2 separate regions of the Homo sapiens genome follow, and region 1 is linked to region 2. Evidence: fine-mapped expression QTL. Tissue or cell type: gastroesophageal junction. Region 2 holds a variant in brackets; the other region holds the start of a gene. All regions are shown on one strand. Distances are between the middles of the regions.

Evidence for each region. PIP is the estimated chance that this variant, and not a neighbour inherited with it, causes the effect.
Region 1: it holds the start of ADCY5, and the variant in region 2 is fine-mapped to the expression of ADCY5 in gastroesophageal junction (GTEx, PIP above 0.99).

The regions. Positions count from the first base shown.
Region 1 is chr3:123,446,401-123,451,547 of GRCh38, forward strand. It overlaps ADCY5 (adenylate cyclase 5), which reads right to left and starts at 2,690. Exons shown (of 21, transcript NM_183357.3): 1 at 1,012-2,690. The coding sequence starts at 2,145. RefSeq lists an enhancer at 852-1,751.
Region 2 is chr3:122,984,342-122,989,488 of GRCh38, forward strand. The region is part of intron 1 of SEMA5B (semaphorin 5B); the gene reads right to left. Among named protein-coding and RNA genes, the nearest start is that of SEMA5B, 41 kb to the right of the region's middle. The variant A/C (reference allele first, on the strand shown) is at 2,882.

The DNA of each region.
Region 1 (5,147 bases), 460 kb after region 2:
TGCCTGTAGCAAGGGCCCAGTGGACTCTCACAGTGGAGCAGCATGCAAACAAGCAGGTTCAGAAGCAATCATGGATGAGGACCAGGAAACCAGACCACAGGACACTAAAGGGAGATATGGTATGGATGGCAGGGGGGCTCCTCTCACCCTGAGGTCAGGATAGCCAACATGCCCCTCTCACAGAAGCCTTTAAGAGAGTCACCAGCTAACCAGGCAAAAGTTGTATTTCTTCCTGAACCTGCAGTTCTAGACTCACCCAACAAATCCCAGCAGGGATAAAATGTCCCTACCACAAGCAATGACCAGGGGCACCCACTTGAAGGGGTCATGATGTTCAACAACAGCTTTCTGCTCAGGCCGGAAGGGGAATTGCCACCACACACATCTCGGAGGCTCCTTCCCACTTTAGCGAAGGGCAGGTTTTTGGCTTGGGGCGCTCTGCTAACTGAAACAAACTTGTCAGTCCTTCTGCAAGTTCAGGGATATCTCCAGCTACCAAATCCCCAGCCTTAGACAGGTGGCAGGCTCATGCTACCTCCTCCTTACCACTGAGCAAGGGGTGCAGGGTGTCCCCTCACCAACCCTCTATCCAGGGCTGGATTAACAAAGCAGCAGTGGCACTCACGAGGGGGTGGCTGCTAGAGGGTCCAGCCACTTTCGTTAGGGGCCTTTTGTATATAGGAACAGAAGCTCAGGAAGAGATGGGAAACACTCCTTATAATTTTCTCCTCCAACCTTCCTCACTGCATTCCCACAGTGATGGCTACAGTTCAGTACACGTTATCTAAGGGGCAAGGAACACTGCAAACGACACAAGGGCACTCTTTTTGTAAATGAAGCCGCTGGGGCTCAGAGTGGGGTAAGAAGCTCCCAAATAGCCTACATGGCCGAGCCCTGTCTCTCTGGCTCTTTTCACCATTCGAAAGGGTGAGGGTGGGATCCCTTTCTTTGGAGTCCAGCTGAGGCCTGCCCGCCCCGCAATCCAGTCCCGGTGGCCAGGTCGGCCCCTACCTGCTTCAGCAGGAACTGGTCCTGGGCGTTGGTGCGCAGGGCGATGGCCAGGTGGAGGGCGGACAGGAGCACCCCGCTGAGCACTGCGGCCCGCATGCGCACGGGCAGCAGCGTGTAGATGGTGTAGATGAAGAACACGGTCCACCAGATGCCCTCAGAGGCGCTGCGTGGCTGCGGCAGCAGCAGGCCCACCACCTGGACGGCCAGCACCACGGCGATGAGCGCATAGCAGGCCAGGCCCATGTGGTCCTGGTGGAAGGCGGCGCGGTTGCAAAGCACAGCCATGATGAGGATCACGCCGACGGCGGCCGCCAGCACGGCCAGGTAGGGCAGCTGGAGCGGGGGCCGCGCCGCGTGGAAGGCCAACATGACCAGGCACACGAGCACCAGCACGGCCATGAGCATGGTGAGGCTGCTCTGGTTCAGGCGGAAGAAGTAGCGCTGGTACAGCCGCTCCAGTTTGTCCGACGGGAACTTCTTGGAGCGGAATATCTGCAGCAACGCCAGGCAGCAGGCGCCCAGGGACAGCACCGCGCCGGGCCCCGCGCCCGAGCCCGAGTCCGCCGAGCTGCCGCCATCCCCGGACCCCTCGCCGCCCTCGACGGCGCCGGCCTCCAGCTCGTCGGCCGCGCGCCCCTTGCCCCGCCGCTCCTCCAGACCCACCTCCACCGAGCGAGGGCGCACCTCCGTCCCGCCCGCCGAGGCAGCCGCCGCCGCCGAGCCGCCGCCGCCGCCCGCAGGGGGCGCCCGGGTGCTGCCCCCGCTGGCCGCGCCCCGCCGCTGCCGGCGGCTGCCGCGACCGCAGTCGTCGCCGCCGCGCTCCTGCCAGGCGGACTTGGAGCGGAAGCTGAAGCCGAAGCCCCCGGCCAGGGGGTCGTCACCGCTCAGCGGAGGATCGTCGTCGTCGTCGCTGCGCCAGCGGCTGGCCAGGCGCTGCTGCTGCTGCGGGGTCACCGCCCCCCCGGGTTTCTTGGTGGAGCCGCGGGCAGAGCCCCCGGGGGCATGGGGGTAGCCATTCGCGCGGGAATCGGCCTCGCCCCACGCAGAGCGGTGTTCGGGGCCTCCCCGGGGCGCCGGCGCCGCAGTCTTCTGCGCCGCGTAGCCCGGGGGGCTCACGCTTTTGGAGCCGGACATCCCCCCCTCGGCCTCGTCGTCTCCTTCCTCCTCCCCCGGAAGCCGGGCCGGGGGTCTCCAAGGGGAGGGCGGACGGCCGAGCAGGGGGACCAGGCTAGGGTCACACGTCGGGGGCGGCCCGGGGCCCTGCGCTGCAGCGGGGCATCTTGGCACCCCCGTCCTGAGCGGAGGAGGAGGGCACAGCCCCGAGGTGAGAAGTAGCTGAGGATCCGCGTCAGAAGTCCCAGGTCCGAAATGGAGTTGCCTCCGAGGTGGGGTCGCAGGGACTGGTCTGGCTGCTGCTGCGCCGCACGCGGAGAGACGTCCGGGATCCTGGCTCGCGTCGAGCTCGACGAGGGCCGGAGTTGCGGACGAGACGGGACGGAGTGGTGTCCTTGCGGGCGGTGCCTCCTCGGGCCGGCAGTGCCCGGGCGCGGCGCTCGCTGATTCCGCCTAAGCGGAGCCCAGCTGCTCTCGGGGCTCGGCGGCGGCGAGGGCGGCTCGGCGGGGGTCCCGGCGAAGAGACACTGCGGGTGCGCTTTCCTCGCAGCGGACTGGGAGCGACTGGGAGGTGCGGGCGCCAGCCAGCATTATTTTCTTACGAGGGGTGGGGAGGTGGGATGGGAGGTGGAGAGGACGGGGGAGGGGGCGACGGGCGGAGCAACAGCTCCGGAGCCCCGGGGGGGAGGGTCCTGGAGCCCGGGGGGGCCGTTGCCCGCATCCCCCACCTCTCGCGGCGAGAGTGGATGCGTGGCCCCGGCGAAAGCCGAGCCGAGCCTTCGGCGCGTCCGCGCAGGGGGCGGGGTCCGGGTCAGGGACCGGCTCCTGCGGTGCGGCCCTTCCCCTCTCGCCTCTCCCTTTCCCGCAAACGGAGCGGGGCCGGCCGGGACCTGCCGGCCCGGAGAGCTGTCGCGCCCGCTTCGCAAGCCCCAAGCTCCTCGTCGCCGGCTGCGGGCCCACCGCGGCCGGCGCGGAACGACTAGGCGGAGGACGGAATCCGGCGCAGCGCTGCCGCGGTTCTGCCCCGACGCAGGCAGGCTTCTCCCGGGGAGTAAGGCATCCAGAGATCCAGCGCCGGGGCTCAGAAGCAGCCGGCCCAGAGGGGCCCGCCTGAGAGCCGCGGCGCCCGAGAGGCGCTCCGGGGGGGCCCGCGGGAGCCCGGCTCAGGGCGCGCCATGCACGCTTCGGGCCCTGCGCCGCTCCGGCCGCTCGCGCCGCTCCTCCCTTCTCGCCCGCTCGCCGCCGCCGGAGAGCCCTCCGCATCCCCTCCTCCCGCTGCCTCCCCGCCCCCCGCGCCGCCCGGGCCTCGGCTCACAGCCGCGCGAGGCCGCCTCCGCCCCCGGCCTGGCCATGGCCCCAGCCTCGGCGCCCCGCGGGCATCCTCAGGCCTGGCCGCGGGCACCCCAGTTCCCCTTCCTCACCTAAAATTCTCGCTGCGCCCCTCCCTCCCTGGGACTAGGAGCCGCATCCAGCCTGCGGTCCCGTCACCAGACCTGGGTGGAGCGCGGTCTTCCCCCGCCCCCGGCCAGGGCTCCAGCGCCCCCAGTCCTAGCTCCCCTCTTTTGTATCCCCCTTTAATCCCCCTCCCCCCATTTAACCCAACTTCAGCCCCGGCGCTGCGCCCCCCTTCCCTGGCCCGGCTCGATTGGCCGCTTCCGGAGCTGTCAGACTACAGTCCGGCGCTCTTATTGGGCGATTCTCTGGCCCGGCGGCTGTGCCAAAGGAGGGCGCACCGGGTGGGGGGCGCCTGGGCAGCGAGTGCCTCAAGGAGAAGGAGAACAGAGTCCCTGGAGGGGTCTCAGGGGCCGGAGAGCCAGACCCGGAAATGGACAGGGGAGATGCAGAAACAGGACTTCTGAGACGCAGGAAGACAGTGATGGAAAAGATGGTGATGCAGTGGGTGAGGCCGATGCAGCCGGGGCGGGGCGGACAGGGAGGCTTTGGTGGGTAGTTACCAGGAGAAAGCCCCACAGTGAACACTGGAAACACCTGGCTTTTATAAAGCGCTCTTTGCCTGTTCGTAAAGTCTCATAAATCTCACTTGGTTCCCGTCAGTAATCCTAGGATGAGACAGAGGACAGAGACCGTGTAGCTATTCCCAGCTTATAGATGCAGAAACTGAGGCTCTGGGAGCTTATTCAACTTGCTATAGGTCACACAGGTCTACTAACTTGGCACCCAAAGGTCCTTCGTCAGCGCCAGACTGCCTCCCTAACCTAACAAGGTGTTAGCAGGAAGGATGGGCACCTGAGCAAGCTGGCGTGCCCACTTGGGGGGAAGCAGGGGAAGGGGAAAATGGCTAGATACACAGCACCAGCCACAAGAGGCAGGAATGGAGAGAAGGATTCGACTGCTAGGCAAAAAGGACGTAGGCCTGTAGAATGATGTGTCTACCCAATTCCCTTTGCCCCCAAGCTGTCCTGCTGGAGTTCTGACAGTCTAAACCCTGGAGAGGTGGGAGACCACACTCCTACCCAGCCTGGGGGTAAACAGCTTTTACTTTCCCCTTCTTCATCCTCCAACTCTCTCCCCAGAGCTTCTGACAGGGAGCCTAGAGGTCTAAGTGAGCTTCCTTCTTTGTCTCTCTCTGCTGGTCATCTCTGCAGACTGGAAGATAAACCTTGCCAGAGTTACAAATTGGGAGGAGAAAAATTCCAAGAGGTCAGAATAAACTAACCCTTGGGTAATCCAGCCTTTGAGTATTCCACTATTAGCCAAGTTGTAAAAAAAAACATGAATTTAGTCAATAAAAATTCTAGAGAACCCTCAATGTACAAAGCATTGTGCTAGTTGCTACCAGGATAGAGAGATGACCAAACTCTAGACCGGGAACAAGTCGAACAAGTCAGTGACGGAGAAGAGCTAGCCACTATCTCTAGGTCAGAGCAAAGTTCTGGGTTCAATAGAAGTGCAAACAGCACCTCGGGCATTCAGAGAGAGGGGGTGTCACTTCCCACTGTGAGGGCCAAACAAGGGCCTGGAAGTCAAACCTGGGTCTAGCAGGGAAGGATGTCTAAGAAAGG
Region 2 (5,147 bases):
AACCCTATCACTCCCATTCTGGGCAGCAGGGGTGGCCTCAGAAGGAGAGCATCTGGGTTTGCCACTAAAACCCCCCTTTGCTGTCGCTTGTCAGTCGGGGGCTGCCAATATGCCCATGCCTCTTCACGTCCGTCTGTGGCTTCTGTTTGGGCCCATGTCTTTGTCTCTTTGCTCTCTCTCCCTCTGGGGCTCCTCTGCTCCAACAAAAACCCACAGCAGAATCCTGGGCACATCACAAATAGTTTTCATTAAGAATAACGACAAAGGTTACCCATTGGGTACAATGTTTGCTATTTGGGTAATGGGTACGCTAGAAGCCCAATCCCCACCAGTACACAATATACCCATGTAACAAGCATGCACATGTATCCCCTGAATCTGAAGGAAAATTTAAATTGAAAAAAAGTTCTACTTAAAAAAAAGTAATTAAAAAGAAAGCTTCAGAGAAGGAAAGAGGAAATTAGATTTTATTCTAAATTTGTCTGACACAGGCAATTCCCCAGGGACACAACTGAAAATGTAAAGGCCCAGAAAAATCACAGGGGAAAAAAATAATTTCCCCCTGTTTCTCCCAAAGACTTCTTTGAAATACACGATTTCAAATACGTTTCTGGATCCTAAAACTTTTTAGAATGAATAAAGTGTCTAGGATAGGGTATTTTTATGTTCCCCAACCATTCCTAAAAATTACACCATAAGATTTTAAGTTAAAAAAGCTACATCAATCTTTTCGTCTGCATATAATGATGCAACTTGTTTGACATTCCTTTCCAAATGACCTACAGAAAAATCAATTGTTCCTGAGAATCCAAGTACATTTCCACTTATAAGTACAGAGGAATTAAAAATGGATTACTGTAATGAAAAATGGCCAGGCACAGTGGCTCACACCTGTAATCCCAGCACTTTGAGAGGCCAAGGCAGGAGGATTGCTTCTAGCCAGGAGTTCAAGACCAGCCTGGGCAATATAGCAAGACCCTGTCTCTAAATTAAAAAAATTTTTTTTAAGAAATTAGCCCAGCAGGTTGCACTTGCCTGTAGTTCTAGCTACTCTGTCCTAGCTGAAACAGGAGGATCCCTTGAGCCCAGGAGTTGGAGACTGCAGTGAACTATGATTGCACCACTGCACTCCAGCCTGGGTGATACAGTGTCTCTTAAAAAAAAAAAAGAAAGAAAAAGAAAAATGAGAAAAATGTTGTCCCCAGCAACTCCAGCTTCTGTGAAAGTACTGGATCTAGGATTTGGAGGCACATCTATGAAGAGGTAAAAGGGGAATGGCCACAGCATTTGATAGATCTACCCCCAGAAAGCTCCCAAACCCCAGTGCCCAGCTGCTCACTGCTGCAGATAGCTGGAATCTTGCGGGAGGAGGTGTGAGCTCGGAGAAAGCTAGGGGATCTCCCAAGCAAATCCCATCCCCCAACAGGGTGGCCACGCCAGCCTATGGTTCCAATCTGCCCCTTCCGTCTTCTACTACATGTGAAAAGAAATGGAGCCATATTTGGAAAAACATAGTCCAAATCAAGAAATAAATTAACATGTGAAAAGAGAGAGAAGCTTGTCCCAATTTAGGCAAATCTTCAGTTTTCAGGACTCTGGGAAGATGATAAAAATGAAGTGTTAGTAGAATCAAAAATGACTCAAGGTGATGGCTCAAAGAATGGGGCTGATTAGATAAAATTCTATGGAGTAAATTGTGTTCAATGAGATTTAAAGGTTTCCCTCTCCTTTCTTTTCACAATTCCTTTTCTGAAAATAAGTGCTTTTCTGTTTCTTGCCAACACCAAGTCCAGAAAGCATAATACTGTCCTTTGTCTTACTCTAAGTGTGTTGTAGATGGATTCTTCTGTTCAAGCCTTTGCCTACTTATTAAAAAGTGTCAGAAGAAAGTGGATGCGAGACTTCTGAAAGGACAGGTGCTTTGATAATGGGAAACTTGAAATTATTAGCAGAGCAAACTGCAACATACAATTTGATATACCCAAAAAGCTAGTTACATGTTTATTAAATCAATTATATACAACCATTTTTGACATTTTGAAACAAAGAGACATGAGATCTTCTGAAAAATCACCAAAACCAAAGTTGCATACAAATTTTCATTTTCCTTCTAATATTTGAAAAACAAATGATCTCTTTTCCCTGTGCATCCAAAGAATGTTTAAATCCAAGATAAGTCACTCCTGTTGCTCCTCATAAGGCAAGAGAGGCAGGAGGGGGCACTGGGAGATGAGGCAGGCCCAGAGCATATTTGTGTGTGTGTGTGTGTGTGTGTGTGTGTGTGGTGTGTAAGTGTGCTGGTCTTCCCTCTACTTCCCTGCAATGCAAATGGTGGGTAGAAAGGAACACACACACAGACACACACACACACACATACAAACATGCACTCATTTGCCAAGGGGGTGTCCACTCAGCCAAGAAAAAACTCTCAGCTGAAGTTAACCCTATAACCCTGCATTTGCTCTACCATCTTCAAAAGAGGTTTGAAATTCTTTCCCAAACTTTGCTGCACTTTCCATGAGAATGGGGATGTTCCTGCATAAAACATGAGTTTAGGAGGGCCCGGCCGTGAGCTAGCAGGCCTTGGGGAGCTTGTGTGGGGCCCGGGATTGTGGGGAAGAAGAACAGAGAGGTGGGGGAAGGGAAGGGAGGCTGTTTTCTCAGGCTGCATTTCTTGCAGGCTCCTTGGAGACCAGAGAAAGGCCAGGAAAGGTCTCAGCTGGGGCTGGGCCCTCACAGAACCGGCGGAAAAAGGGATGCTGCACTTAACCCCATGGAGCCAGATGGGCTGGGGTTTGAGGACCTCCAGTAAAGTGATGCCGGGAAGGCAGGGGAGAGAGAGAGAGAGAGATTGGAGAGGGTAAAGTCCTGGGAAGGGAAA[A/C]ATGCAGGTGGAGGGGGGAATCTACTAAACATTGAAGATGCAGTCTTGTCCCCCCCATAAGTGGGTTCACAAAGGACAGGGACAAAAGTTCTACTTCTGTTGGTATCTCCACAGAATCCAGCCAGTGGCGGGCCTTTTACATGCTGTTTTTGAATGGCTGCAGGTGGGCAGGCAGGATTCTTATCCTGCTATCAGCACCCCACTGAGTAGGATTTAGGGGTCTGCAAGAGGTCCTCTCCCTCAAACTGGTTATTAGCACTGCTTGAATTAACTCAGCAATGGGCTAAATGCCAGCAGCAGGAGAGAGATGTTTGGGCATTCTGCTCCTTGGGGATAGAGCCCTCATGAAAATCACTGAGGCACCACTCTCCCCAGAGGCTCGGAAAGGGCAGGAGTGTTTATGCTGCTGGGGCAGCAGAGGTTCTCAGGTGGCCATGGTGTGTGCTATGGACGGACGCCCTGTATTGGTCACTGGATTGCACACATACCTCTGCAGCCTCCTCCTGACAGGGACTGGGAGAAGAGAGCCACTGAAATTAATGGGGATGTAAACTACCTTGAATCCCTTTCTGGAAAAATCAGGACATAAGTAGTGAGTTTTGTTGGGGTTGGGTTTTTGAAATTTATTTTTTTTTTCAATTTGGAGAATTTTATGATACCTGCAAAATAGCTGGCAGTGCTCCAGAATGTGGTTACTGGATCTTTGCAAGTCACTGGTTACTTACCGCAAGTTGGAAAATGCTGAGACCAGCCATAGAAGGAAGTGCAGTTGGAAGGGGGGCCTCAGAGATGTGCAACAGTAGTGGTCTTCAAACCTGAGCTGCATCAGAACCACCCAGAAGCCATGCAGAAACCCTGGCTGCTGGCCCCCAGCCACAGAGATCCTGATTCTCCCTCTGGGGTGAGACTCGAGAATCTGCATTTCAAAAAGTCCCCAAGTGATGCTGCTGCTGCTGGTGCAAGGAACACACAGGGAGAATGACTGTTCTAGAAAACCCCTCCTTTTGTAGGTGAGGAAACTGAGGCGATAGGGTTTTAATGGCAGAGCCAGGAACTCACAGCCAGGTTTCCTGAAAAGAAGGTGTGGCACCCAGCTCTAGCATGAAACCCCAGTGTGGAGGTGAGGCAGAAGGGAGAGGACAAAACCCATACCCAGCTAAAATCAAACACCGTCTGTATCCTCCATGTGCTAAAGTCAAGTCTACAGAACCCCAACCACCTGGATCCCACTGGAGGGGCGGAATGGGAAACTGAGAATGAAGCAACCAGTTGGACAGGCAGACAGCAGCAGGAGGAAGAGAGGGAGCACACAGATTACAGAAAGCAATTAACACAGAGTGGACAATTCAGGGACACTGGGGAGCCTCCTGCCAGCCCTGGGGAGCACAGATTAACAAGCCTCTCTAGGACTTGGCAGTTGGGAGCAAGCCTGCTGCTTCCAGCTGTGACTTGACCTCACATCTGTTATCTCCTAAGGCCTTGGGGTGGGGCCTGGAAAGCTCTGCTGGGAGAATGGCCAGAAAAACCAATTAATCTCGCCTCATCTGGGCTCTCATGCCCGTGAGGGCTACCACACCTCAATCAGCCTTGTCCTCCTCGAGACTGGGAGCTCCTCGAAGCCAGAGACACATCACCTAGCTCTAATCTGGTAAGCATTCGGTAAAAGTTGGATAAAGAAATGAATGCAGGCATGAATGCAGCCCTTCTGCTCTGGAGAAGCAGGCTCTGCCATCAGTGTACTTAAGAGGAATCCCATCGCGTAATCCCACCTGCTGGGGAGGGCCAGTGGGGCTTCTGTTGCTAATTGGCACAGTATGGACAGAAGTCCCTCTTCTCCAAAATGTCCCCTCTACATCTTTCTCACTGCTCCGCTAGAGGAAAACAATCTTTTTGCATCTAACCAGCATATGTTCGGAGAGAGTCCACACCCCTGCTCTGGGAGACTGGTCTTGGAATCCCTAAACTTATGAGAAGCTCCTATTGTCCACAGATGGCCCCTTGTCCCATCAGTTTCAGATGGGAGGCTCAGAGCCCCTGCAGATTCCCAGCAGCCGCACAGAGGCTGCTGGTGGGTCAAGGAGGGCTGTGAGCTGGGGTCTGCTGCCTGATGTTGCCAGGCTTAGTTGTGGGGAGAAAGGTCCCAAGTGCAGAGCTGCACTGAGGCTGCAGAGGCAGTGTCCTGGCTCTGAACCTTCCCCTCATAGTCGACCCTAGACTGGCCCACCAGGGCTCTGGTAAGGCTTCCTGATTCCGTGCCTGGTCTCAT